Linked DNA regions of Homo sapiens: all the other regions are linked to region 2. Evidence: fine-mapped expression QTL. A gene starts in region 2. Each other region holds a variant in brackets. All regions are shown on one strand. Distances are between the middles of the regions. Region 1 overlaps ANXA2 (annexin A2). Region 2 holds the start of ANXA2 (annexin A2). Region 3 overlaps ANXA2 (annexin A2).

The links. PIP is the estimated chance that this variant, and not a neighbour inherited with it, causes the effect.
Region 1: its variant is fine-mapped to the expression of ANXA2 in tibial artery (GTEx, PIP above 0.99).
Region 3: its variant is fine-mapped to the expression of ANXA2 in whole blood (INTERVAL, PIP above 0.99). The same link has a PIP of 0.9 or more in monocytes after LPS.

What each region holds. Positions count from the first base shown.
Region 1 is chr15:60,373,764-60,378,002 of GRCh38, reverse strand. The region is part of intron 3 of ANXA2 (annexin A2); the gene reads left to right. Among named protein-coding and RNA genes, the nearest start is that of ANXA2, 22 kb to the left of the region's middle. The variant A/C (reference allele first, on the strand shown) is at 2,069.
Region 2 is chr15:60,395,571-60,399,809 of GRCh38, reverse strand. ANXA2 (annexin A2) reads left to right here and starts at 1,824. Exons shown (of 13, transcript NM_004039.3): 1 at 1,824-1,867. RefSeq lists silencers at 1,092-1,401, 1,522-2,061, 2,132-2,271 and enhancers at 2,432-2,621, 2,642-2,691, 2,752-2,801, 2,295-2,886, 2,887-3,478.
Region 3 is chr15:60,345,248-60,349,486 of GRCh38, reverse strand. It overlaps ANXA2 (annexin A2), which reads left to right. Exons shown (of 13, transcript NM_004039.3): 12 at 290-412; 13 at 1,798-2,336. The coding sequence ends at 1,857. Among named protein-coding and RNA genes, the nearest start is that of ANXA2, 51 kb to the left of the region's middle. The variant G/A (reference allele first, on the strand shown) is at 2,076.

The DNA.
Region 1 (4,239 bases), 22 kb after region 2:
AATTCTCCTGTTTCAGCCTCTTGAGTAGCTGGGACCACAGGCATGCACCACCACACCTGGCTAATTTTTGTATTTTTAGTAGAGACAGGGTTTAACCATGTTGGCCAGGCTCGTCTCGCACTCCTGACCTCATGTGATCCACCTGTCTTGGCCTCCGAAAGTGCTGGGATTACAGGTGTGAAATCATAGGCCTGGCCTATGATTTCTTTTAATCAAAAAAGAAAAAATAAAAGGCATTAGCAATGGAAACAGACGTACGTCACTTCATGGTCCTTCCTTTACTGCACTGTGTAGATATTATGGTTTTTACAAATTGAAGATTTGTGGCAATGCTATTCACTTTGTCTCTGTGCCAGCATTTTTTAGAAATAAAAGTATTTTTTAAATTTAGTTATGTGTTTTTTAGACATAATGCTATTACACACTTAATATAATATAATCACACTTTTATATGCATTGGGAAACCAAATTGTGTGACTTGCATTATTGCTATATTTGCTTTATTGTGATGGTCTGGAACCGAACCAGTAGTATCTCCGAGGTATGCCTGTATATGGAATTGTGGGCAATTGCTCCTTTTCCTTTCTTGGGCTTTCAGTATATTCTGTATTTCTGTATTTTGCAAATTTTCTATGATGACTTGTATTACTTTCATAGTGGAAGGCAGTAAACTTAATTAAAAACAAAAATGAAGTCATTAGTTGGAAAGGATAACAACCCTTTTGTTCCTTCCTCCTTCTCCTTGATATTATTAGATACTGGATAACTAAAACCACTTAAAAATGAGCTAATTAAGATCTTACCTTCTTTTTTTAGAATGCCTTTTGCCTTAAGTGTAATTAAGAAGCTTACACCACACCTTGGCCCCACTCCCACCTCTAACCCTTCATCGGGAAGAGACAATACTAAGTAGTTGGTGTTTCCTTGACATCAAAGGACACGGTATAAACCTCAAGTATTGATAGAAACAAAAGCCAGAGGACCATGTGACGATGACTGGCCCTCTTTCTCTCCTAGACGGGGGTAGCCGTGTGTACACACGTGTGTGTGAGTGTGCCGGGACGCTACCCACTCCATGTAATGTTCCATTGATTTCCCTGTGGTCTGTGTGCTCTCAGGAAGAAGAGCTGGGAGCAGGCCACCTTGGAGGAGGCTTAATCAGCTGCTGTCGAGTACACGGATGGTGCACAGGAGCAGGCCTGGAGTGGGATGATGGCGAGGAGGGTAGAGCTGGTCAGAGACCTGTTTGGGGGCACTGCTTGCCATGGCCAGGGCATGGCTGCAGGAGTCACGAAGGCTGTTCTCACAGACGAACTGTCAGTCACACCTGCTCTTCTTGGTGTGAGCTAAAGCTCCTCACTTGCAGCCCTCTGTTAGAGGAGAGAGGCTACTTTTCCCAGCCAGTCTGCCTCCTGGCACCCTCGAGAGAATATATTCCTAATTGCTGTGCTCAACTGAATGAATATACCTCCAGGTGTGCAGACAAAACCAAAAATACCTGTCCTGGCTCACTTTCCAGTGCTTGGGAGGCAGCTCTTATTCACCCCTTCCCCTAACTCTTGTCACCCCTCTCCTGTGAGCTGTTATGGCATCTGTCGTCGTCGTCTTCTTTTTTTTTTTTTGAGACAGAGTTTTGCTCTTGTTGCCCAGGCTGGAGTGCAATGCACAATGTCGGCTCACTGCAACCTCGCCTCCCGGGTTCAAGCGATTCTCCTACCTCAGCCTCCCGAGTAGCTGGGATTACAGGCATGTGCCACCATGCCCGGCTAATTTTTTTTTGCATTTTTAGTAGAGATGGTGTTTCTCCATGTTGGTCAGGCTGGTCTTGAGCTCCTGACCTCAGGTGATCCGCCTGCCTCAGCCTCCCAAAGTGCTGGGATTACGGGTGTGAGCCACTGCGCCTGGCCTATGGCATCTGTCTTCTAAGGGACCTCCCTGCTTCAGCCTTTACAGAGTATCTTTCTAGCCTCGTCTCTGGCTCTGTTCACGGCCCTCTACAGAGCATGCCTCTGCCTTTGTTCTTTGAGGAGCGTGTAGCCTCCTTCCTCCCCACCTCAAACATCTGCGC[A/C]GTTCCCATTTACCTCTCAGCCTGGGCCAGTGCACAGCATCAACAAGCTTTCTCTGAGAAGGCAGAACCAGCTATTTCTTGGTCTGTGTTCTCATCATACTCTACATACTCGTTTATTGTGCTTATGAGAAGGGGGGAGAAGCACAATACTGCTAAAATCAAAATAAGTCTGCTTTGTTTCTAGTTTGAAGGGATCTCAGTATTTTTTGCCTGTGCTGCCTAAACCAAATGCAGGATTGTTTTATGTATGCTCCGTCCTGAGGTAGACTATGCAACGACTTACCTTAATTTATGTCTGGTTAGAAACTGAGTACAGTCATGCAAAAGTAGTAATACTGCTTAATTAACAAGAGGTTGCTGAGACTTAATCTGTAGGAGTCTCTTGGTTTAGATTGGCCTTGGGTTAAATATATACGATGGCGTGTACAACACAGCTGTGAATGGTTTACCATATGGGTCCAAATAACTAGAAAGGAGAGTCAGCTAAATTAGAAAAGGATGAATCGAGACTCCAGAAAATAGACTGTAATTAGCAGCAGCACAACCCCAGAGTTAGTGTAAGTGCCAATAAACTGGTACAGCTTTGGTCTCTCTCTGGAAGGGGAGGGTAATGAATTACCCTATTATTATTGCCAGTTTTGATTTTAGCAGTATTTGTGTTCTCCGGAAGGGATGCAAAAGTGGGTGATTTTTCTCCCCCCTTTCTCAGAAGCGCAAGTATAGAAGCATAACTGCACGAAGTTTTGCACTTATTTTTTTCTTATACTTTTAAAATAGAACTGCTTAAGATTTCTGTGGCCAAAAGACTAACATCCCATGCCACTGCAGAACAAGCCAGGATGGATATTTTTGGTTTCACCTGCACGCCAGGTATATTCATTTGGCTGAGCAGAACAATTAGAAATATATTCTCTTGAGGGCGCCAAGAGGCAGACTGGCTGGGAAAAGTAGCCTCTCTCCTCTAACGGAGGGCTGCAAGTGAGGAGCTAAACCAACAAGAGCAGGTCTGAGTGTGAGCTCTTCTGTGACTCACGTAGCCCAGGGCCTTCTCACCCTCCTGGAAGGGAACGGGAGGGAACGGACCCTTCCCAGTTGCTGAGGCCTTTCTCTCTGTGTTCAAGTTTACTTTAGACTGACTTCTCATCTTACAGCAGTGCTGGGAACAAAGAGGCCAGTGCTGAGTCACAGCCACCCTGTGACTCTGCCAGCACAGATTTTCTTTGTAGTGATATTTGTCTATGTATCTATGTAGGTGCCAGACCTGAGCCACGTAGCTATCAAACACTGGAAAAGGAGTCCTTGGTGCCTTTCTAATTGTAAGCATCAGCTTTCATCACCTGCCTCTCTTCAGCTCTTTCTTTTTTTAAAAAACAGTTAGCTCTTTTCCCTGAGGAAATCCAAATACCAGTTTCACCCAGGGACAATGGCAGTAACCAGATTCTAATCTGGTGTCAGCAATGCCAAGAAAATTCTCCAATATCAAGTGAGTTAAGGGTGGCTGCGTTGGTTTCTCTCGCATCTGTTCACATTTTTTAATTTTCTGTCCCATGAGGCTGACGGAGTAGCAGAGCACAATACAGGGCTTGCATTTTATGCATGTTCCTTCACTGACGATTTGATTTGAATCTTGAGCAGTGGTGTACTTTGTGTTTTCCTGCTGGTCTTGTAGCTTGTTTCAGAAATATAATTCTGCATGGAAGGCAGACAAGGTTCTAGATTATTAAAGCAGCCGGTGAGATTACCAAGTCGATGATACCTTAAATCCTTTCTAAGGAACTCAGCTGAAGTGAGATCAAAGCAGAATGGAAATAGAAGAAATCTGATTTTTGGACCAAAACCACTTCTTAGGCACTTAGCTAAACTACACTTTCCCCGAGTTGAGACTGTGTGCCCCAGCTGTGCCAGGCTTGGGAGAGGCACCCAACTCCCCTGCCTCATTTCACCCTGTGCAATGCCTACTTTCTCTCCCATCTCTTGGCAGCTGCCAGAGTTTGTCATGTAACTGGACTACTCATCCATGTGTGCCAATGGCAAAAATGTTCTCTATCTTTCTTTGCCCCATATTTCACAGGCAGAAATTCAAATGCAGGCAGGGGCCAGGCTTGTGACAGAGAAGCTGAATGAAGGCAGTAGATGTGTTTCTAGTCGTTAACTCAGCCAGTCTTTTCTGC
Region 2 (4,239 bases):
TGACTTTGAAGCTTTCAGGCTAAATTGAAGAGCTATAAATGTAAATCAGCAATTGTACCCAAAGTGTTGCTTGATTTTCTATTTGGCTCTGTGGTAGGGCCCATCGCGTATAATTCCTCGTGAAAGCGCTGGGTAACAGAAAGCTTTGGGCGGGTTAAAAGACCTCAGCTGTGGCCGACTTTGCCTGTGTCACTCTATGCGAGTGGGCAGAGCACTGAATGTCTGTTGGCCTTGCTATCATTCTCTGATTCCCAGGAGTGAATTGACGCTCAAATGGAAAGTAAAAATGGATGTTAAGATAAATGGGAGATTGAAACACAGAATCATCAAAACCAGGAAAAAGAGCTGCAGGAAGTAGTGTGCAAGGAGGGGTTTAAAAAACGCAGCCAGAGATCCTCGGGATTCTCAGCGTCGCTTTCCTGTTAGTTTGAGGTTCGAATACAGTATTTGCGTCGTCTCACATACAACAAATAGGTGTCTGCCTGCACGTTGCCAACGTGACTCTTGGAAGAAAAGCGAGAAGCAGCAAAACCGAGCAAGGGAGTTGGCTAAACGGCTGCAAGAAACACACACACACACACACACACACACACACACACGGAAGAAAAGCGAGAAACAGCAAAACCGAGCAAGAGAGTTGGCTAAACGGCTGCAAGAAACACACACACACACACACACACACGGAAGAAAAGTGAGAAACAGCAAAACCGAGCAAGGGAGTTGGCTAACTGGCTGCAAGAAACTCTCTATCTCACTCTCTCTCTCTCTCTCTGTGCTGCAAGAAACTCTCTCTCTCTCTCTCTCTCTCTCTCTCTCGGAAGAAAAGCGAGTAACAGCAACACCGAGCAAGGGAGTTGGCTAAACGGCTGCAAGAAACACACACACACACACACACACACCACACACGCACACACACACCCCAGCAGTCATGAAAGAAGGAGAGGAAAGTTCTTTGTTGAAACTCCGGGTTCGAAACACACACACACACACACACACACACACACACACACACACACACACACACACGAAACTCCGGGTTCAAAGCTATGGGCCCCACCCCGCTCAGGACTGCCTGCTACGAGGCCGCGCAGAGATGCCCCAGGCGCGGAGAGAAGCGGAGCACAGCCGTGCTAGGGACAGGGGCGCCACCCTGGGCGGGACTGAGGTGGGATCCTGGCTCCCGGCTTTGGCCTCCCAGCCCAGGCTCGGGGCTTCCTGGCCCTCGGAGGCCGGGGCGGGCCAGGCTTTGCAGCACAGGGCGAATCTCCCTCCCTCCCCGGGCGCCCCCCGGGAACTGGCGGCCAGAGGTTAAGCTGACATGTTTGCAGACGGTAATGGGGCGCTGGATGCCAACAGCCCCAGCTCAGGGGAGTCCAGATTTATGTTTCTTGGAACAATTCTTTCCTCCATTGCATTAACGCCAAAAAAAAAAAAAAAAAAAAAAAAACACTTAATCAAGCCCAGAGTCTACTACTAAAGTCTTGTTAATTTATTAACCCAAGCCGAGGCTGAGAGCTCGACGTGGCACTTAAGAAGTAAAATGAGGAAAGGAGGAAGAAACGGGGTCCCTGTGGGCCTCGGGGCAGCCTCGGCCGGGCTTTCTCGGAGGGCAGGGCCAGGGGCGCTGGGGCCGCTCCCGCGTGGCGCGGCTCGGGAGCGTTCCAGGGCGCGGTCCCTGCGGGCCGGCGGGCCGGGGTGAGTCACCCCTGACTTGGGGTGGGAGCGGGCCGTGTAAGGGGGAGGCGGGGCGGGGCGGGGCGGGCCTCGCCTCGCCTAGGGAGGATGTGGCGGGTATAAAAGCCCCACCCAGGCCAGCCGGCTCTGCTCAGCATTTGGGGACGCTCTCAGCTCTCGGCGCACGGCCCAGGTAAGCGGGGCGCGCCCTGCCCGCCCGCGATGGGCCGCCAGCTAGCGGGGTGTGGAGACGCTGGGAAGAAGGGTACGGCCTGGCAGGGAGGCCCCGGCAACTGGCCCCGGAGGCCGTCGGGGGCAGGGGGCTGAAGGGACGGCCGGCACTGGAGAGTCTTTGGGGAGGGGGCTCAGGGACAAGGTGTTTGGGGCAGGGGTGAGGGGCCACCGGCCCTCGGGCCGGGAGGGTGCAGGGCAGAGGTGGTGGGGGGTCGGGCTTCTCTAAGAAGCCCTAGCGGGAGCGGGGCGAGGCGGCGTGGGGAGAGGGGCGGAGGGAGGCCCCGCATTCCAGACGCGCCAGGCGCCGCCGAGGCAGGGCGTGGCCGCCCAGGGAGCCGCAGGTCCCCGGCGCAGCAGTAGCAAGTGGGCTTTCCACTGCCCTCTAGAAAGTGCCCCCCATCTGCTCTAAGTTACTGTACTCGAAACAAACGCGCGCTTGTGGAGTTGAACCGACCAGCAGGAGGGAAGTAGCGGGGGAAGACGAGAGGGGGGAGTGTGAGTAGGCACCCCTCAGCCCCCCATAAAAGAAGACATTAAAACGTCAGTTATTCCCCTTGCTCTAGGTTATCTTGTAGCATAGCAACTTCGGATTTCACTCTACCCGGAGAGTTTCCCGCTTGGTTGAACACATTGGCCTCAGGAAGGTAGTGTCCCCCATGATTCTGTGGGGAGGGTTGTCCTGTTACTCGCCATGATGTGACAATGAGTCAGGAACTGAGAGTAGAGAGAAGGGCGTGGCCCCGGGGCCTCTCCCTTCTGGCCGCTCTGTGCAGCTGGCCCCACTGCTGGTGTGGAGGGCTTGGGTTCCATCAGCCGGCTGTTGAGAAGAAGGAGGGGAACACAGATAAGTTTCCTCATCTGGGAAGGTGGCTTAAGGATGCCTATTCTTACCACCACCCAGAGTTATTGGAGATTTCAAAAAACACAGTCATTAGGTAATAAATGTGTAAAGTACACAAAAAACAAAGTGCTGTGCAAATGCAAAGTGTCATTTTTGTAGTAAGATTGCCGTTTTAAAGCTGTGGGTGTTCTGAGTGCGTGTGTAAAAGAGCAGTGGCCTCATGGGTGCACGCTGGGCCATTACCAAGAACCTTAAGTTGTTGGTGTGCAAAGGCCTGGGCCCCAGACTGTACTGATGGATTCTGTTCACACGTGTGTGCTACTGTGCCTGTCTGGAACTTGGTGACTTGGAATGCAGAATGCACTTTCCCACTGAAACAGTGTTGCAGAAGGTGCTGACGTTCCCAGGCTAGCCCTGAAAGACCTTTTTAACATGCACTGCCTGATTATGGGATTGGTGGTGGGGAGGTGGAGGGTAGTGAGGGGCAATGTGTGTGTAGGAAGACTAAATCACTGAAATATTTTTCTGGAACTTTTTTTAGCTTTAAGGTTGACACTGAGTAAATTATTTTAATTGGAAAATTATGTCTTTGCCCCTGTTCCACTTTCTTTTTTCCACCTTCCACCTCCTTAGAGACGCTCTTCTGGCTCTTCCGTGACGCATTACAACAGCCATCCAGGCCGGTCCAGTTACGCTGCATTCCTTCCTCCTTCCCATTTCGGCGGACCTGCATCCAGCTAGAGACTAGCAGATTGAATCGATATTCATTAAGTTAGGAATGGTTGGTGGTCCTAAGAGCCTCAGCAACCGAGAGGAGTCTTGTTATTTAAAAAACAACGATACTGGGCGTGGTCGTGGGCCTGTAGTCCCAGCTGCTCAAGCTAGTGGATCTCTTGAGTCCAAGGCCAATGTGAGCAACATAGCAAGACCCAGTCTCAAAAAATAAATACATAATAATAATAAAAAACCCTCGTTCACCTAAACAGATCTATAATTTATAGAATGTAAAGCAGCAATATTCAGGCAATATTAAGGAAGATTTTTGGTAAGACTGGGGCAGCAGAGGTGCCCTTGATGGGCAAGGGCCAGGAGTGTTAACACAGTCCTGCTTAGTAATTTCTTCCCTTCTTCCAAGTCTGTCGATTATCTAAAGGTCAAGGGTTTGTCCAAAAATGTCCCTTGCATCTGCAGTGGAAGGATGTGACATGTATGTGCATTTTTACAATTGGAGGTTTGTGATTTGGAGACCGTTTAGATTTTGTAATTTCCCGCAGTGCCAACTAGACTGCCTGTGGTAAATGCCCAGGAAATATTGCTGACTCACTGACTTTGATTAGGAGCTCAGTCTTGCACTGGAGTCTCAATATTTAGCATCTTGTGTCTTTGAGCTATTAAACTATGGTATTGATTGACATTAGGCTCGCAGTCATGGCCGTTAGTTTCCTGGCTAATTTCTGATTTAAGTAGTTTTCCTGGCAAAGTAGATGTGC
Region 3 (4,239 bases), 50 kb after region 2:
ATGGGACCCAAGTCTAAACTTGAGATTCATTTATGTTTTATATAGACCTTACACACATAGCCTAAAGGTAATTTTATACAACGCTTTTGATAATTTTGTGCATGAAACAGTTTGTGTTAAGTGCTGTATGTGGAATTTTTCATTGTGGCATCATGTCGGCACTGAAAAAGTTTTGGATTTTGGAGCATTTTAGATTTCAGATTTTCAGATCAGGGATGCTCAACCTGTAGACGCTTTCTTTAACGATAACATTCTCAGCGAATGTAACAAATATCAACTTGATTTTCAGGGCAAGGGGACGCGAGATAAGGTCCTGATCAGAATCATGGTCTCCCGCAGTGAAGTGGACATGTTGAAAATTAGGTCTGAATTCAAGAGAAAGTACGGCAAGTCCCTGTACTATTATATCCAGGTAAGCCCGAGGTGCAGTGTCAGCCTGCCCTGCCGTCCAGAGCACCCCGGGCCCTGGCAGGTGGCCTGGCAGAATGATGACAGAGTGGCGATTTTCTGTTTTCTGACTCTCTGGGGAAGAGATGCTAGTCATCAACTATCAGGGATTTATTTTGAAAGCACCATTTGTGATTTGTCCTGGACTTTGTACAATCAGGCAGATGTTTTATATTTTTCACATCTGTTACTCTACAATGATCATCGGTGTTCATGACGATGATCCTGCAAGGCTTGCTGACATCCCGAAGAGGCTTGGAAGATCAGTTACATTTTACTTTTTTTTTTTTTTTTGAGACGGAGTCTTGCTCTCTCGCCCAGGCTGGAGTGCAGTGGCCACAATCTCGGCTCACTGCAACCTCCGACTTCTGGGTTCACACCATTTTCCTGCCTCAGCCTCCCAAGTAGCTAGGACTACAGGCGCCCGCCACCACACCCGGCTAATTTTTTTGTATTTTTAGTAGAGACAGGGTTTCACCGTGTTAGCCAGGATGGTCTCGATCTCCTGACCTCGTGATCCGCCCGCCTCGGCCTCCCAAAGTGCTGGGATGACAGGCGTGAGCCACTGCGCCCGGCCACATTTTACTTTTATTATGCATTGGTTCCTTGAAAAATCCTCTGGGATAGGCCTAACAACTTTCAGTTATTCAGAACTCCCATCTCTCCAATCAGTTTAGCATCTGTCTGTTTTGATGTGATGTCGCATTTGCAGTAAGGAAGTGATGGCATTCACAGTGGTACCACTGTGTAGATTTCAGACAGCCCTTGCAATTCCCCTTTCTAGAAGTTCCTCAGATGTCCAAAGGCATGCCCATGGTTAGCAAGGATAAAGTTAGAGCTGGATTTTTTGTAGCCAGGTTTATTAGGGCACATGTTTAAAGTCAAAGGACCAGTTAGACTCTTAGTAATTGTTCCTCACCTCACCAGCTTATTTCCACTTGACCTTAATAATGCAGGAAATAGGAGAGTGAGCTAGGAAAGTACCCTGTTTTCTGTGGAAAGACGAGGACGAGAGAGGAAAGTTAGGGTGTTTGTAGGACCTTGCTGCAGTAAGAACAGCCCTGGTCACTAACCTATGTCAATCCTCAGCACCTTGCACTCCCTCCACCCCACAGTCCTAAGGAGCCTTGAGTGTCTTCCCCAGCACCTCCTCCGACCACACTCCTGGAGGCTTCCCTGGCAATGGTTTGGGTGTGGCCTTCCAGGCCTTTGTATCAGGGCAGGTCTCCTGCAGAGTCTTCTCTTTGTCATGGGAGAAGCTTCATTGTGCGTTGAGGCTACTTCTGTGTTATTGAGGAGTCTGGGCTTTTTTCTGATACCACGTTTCTTTTCTTTCCTGGGCCATTGTAGCAAGACACTAAGGGCGACTACCAGAAAGCGCTGCTGTACCTGTGTGGTGGAGATGACTGAAGCCCGACACGGCCTGAGCGTCCAGAAATGGTGCTCACCATGCTTCCAGCTAACAGGTCTAGAAAACCAGCTTGCGAATAACAGTCCCCGTGGCCATCCCTGTGAGGGTGACGTTAGCATTACCCCCAACCTCATTTTAGTTGCCTAAGCATTGCCTGGCCTTCCTGTCTAGTCTCTCCTGTAAGCCAAAGAAATGAACATTCCAAGGAGTTGGAAGT[G/A]AAGTCTATGATGTGAAACACTTTGCCTCCTGTGTACTGTGTCATAAACAGATGAATAAACTGAATTTGTACTTTAGAAACACGTACTTTGTGGCCCTGCTTTCAACTGAATTGTTTGAAAATTAAACGTGCTTGGGGTTCAGCTGGTGAGGCTGTCCCTGTAGGAAGAAAGCTCTGGGACTGAGCTGTACAGTATGGTTGCCCCTATCCAAGTGTCGCTATTTAAGTTAAATTTAAATGAAATAAAATAAAATAAAATCAGTTCCTGAGTCACACAATCCACATTTCGAATGCTCAGCTTTCACATGTGGTCAGCAGCTAGTATATCTGGACAGCGCAGGCAGGGAACATTTCGATAGAAAGTTCTGTTGGGCAGCAGTACATGCCCAGGGCATGAGAGGACCTATGGGGGAGAAAAAGGGTCCCAGAGGGACCCCTTATCTGCTTATCTTTCTACAGGTTAATTAGGTGAAAATAAGCATCAGGGGCAGCCACAAACTGGAGAGAGCAGTGGGGCAGGGTGGGGCAGGCTACAGCATTCTGGCAAAGGAGATCCAACACAAGCCGATGGGAAGCACGGAGAAGGGATTTCTTTTGACTGGGAGGATTGAGAAAGATGATAGAGAAAAGGAACAATTTGAGCTGCACACTAAAATCTAAGGTGAGGTTTTACAGCTGGGAGAAAGCACTCCATGCAGGTTCTTAAGGGTCTGGGAATGAATGACAGGTCGCTGATACAATGGTACACATGTCAAAAAGTTCAGAGACTTCTTTCTGTACAGGGAAAGTTATGTCTCTCCCTTACTAGCCAGTGGCCTTCCCTGGAGTCGCCTGGTTTCCAGTACATTTTCATGGATAGACTGCATACGCATGTATATATATGTATCTATCTGTGTTCATAAATGTGAAGGTGCTGTCCCCAGGCTGCTGGTACTGGGTTCTGCAGATTCCTTTTTATACAAGTGCTCCCCATAAGCAGGGTAGAGGGCTGGGAGTGAGGGGAAGTTGACTACTCCTCCTAACCCTTCTCCTTAGTGGAGGGTGTGTCAACTACTCATTTTTGGCACCTGGCTGATGCAGGGCCCACTCAGTCATCTGCAGGGACTAGGTAGGTAATGGAAATGAATGTATGAAATGGGCAGGTTGGACAGAAGTGGGGAATCTGGGGAAAATGGGGAATGCCTGCCTTGCTTGAGGCATTCAAATTCAATTCAAACAACAGTCGTAACAACATGGCATTGACCAAACCAAATACATCCGTGAGCTGATTGGCTGCTATTTTGGCCCTTTGGCAAACTTTAGATGGAAATTTGGATCGAGCATGGCTCTTGGGTCACTAGTGGCCCATAACGTATGTGAAAGGCCCCTGAGATAGTCCTTAAAAAGCAGGTTATGCAAAAATCAGGTATTTTATCAAATGTGTCCTGCCTATACATATTAAAATGGATGCCCCAAATCACAGAATATACTGTTCTGTGTGCTTGGGCAGAGTTCAAGGAACTGCCTAAGAAGCAGGACCTTTCTCATTAACCCCAAATTATACTGAACTCAGAATTGATAGGGCTGGGCAGAGACTGTCAGGAGCAGTGTTTCAGATCAGTGAACATTTAGGCATTGTTACCTCTCAATCATACGTGTGTTTCAGGCTGCAAAGGGAGCAGTGGTGTGGAGCAGACAAGGCCATGGGGTGAATATGGGGAAACTTACGCTCCCACTGTGCCCAGGACAGTCTGGCCACTGGTGTGGCCAACAGGTATGTGGGAAAGTTGAAAGGGCAGGCCAACATAGGAAAGGCGCTTGGAGAACTGTTTCAAACACTGTCTACTGTTTTTCCTCTATACAAAGCAATGGCAGTCCAGTGTTTTCCAAAACTCACAGCCAGGGCACTTGAATTTTGGTCCCATTTTCTTCTGGATTTCAGCCTGTCCTCTTCAGTCAAGCTGTCCAAACTGTTTCATGAATAAAGAGAACCATCTGGAGGTTTGACTTATTCTCCCCAGAAATTTTACTTTGCAAAGAGAAGGAAAAGGGTACCTGGCAGGCTGTGAGTTGGTAACAAGAACTTTGATTTTATTCTTTGAGGAATAAAAGGTAATTGATGCAATGTAGCTATGAAAACTTATTGTACTGTAACACTGTGATCAAGAACATGATTTTTTTCTCC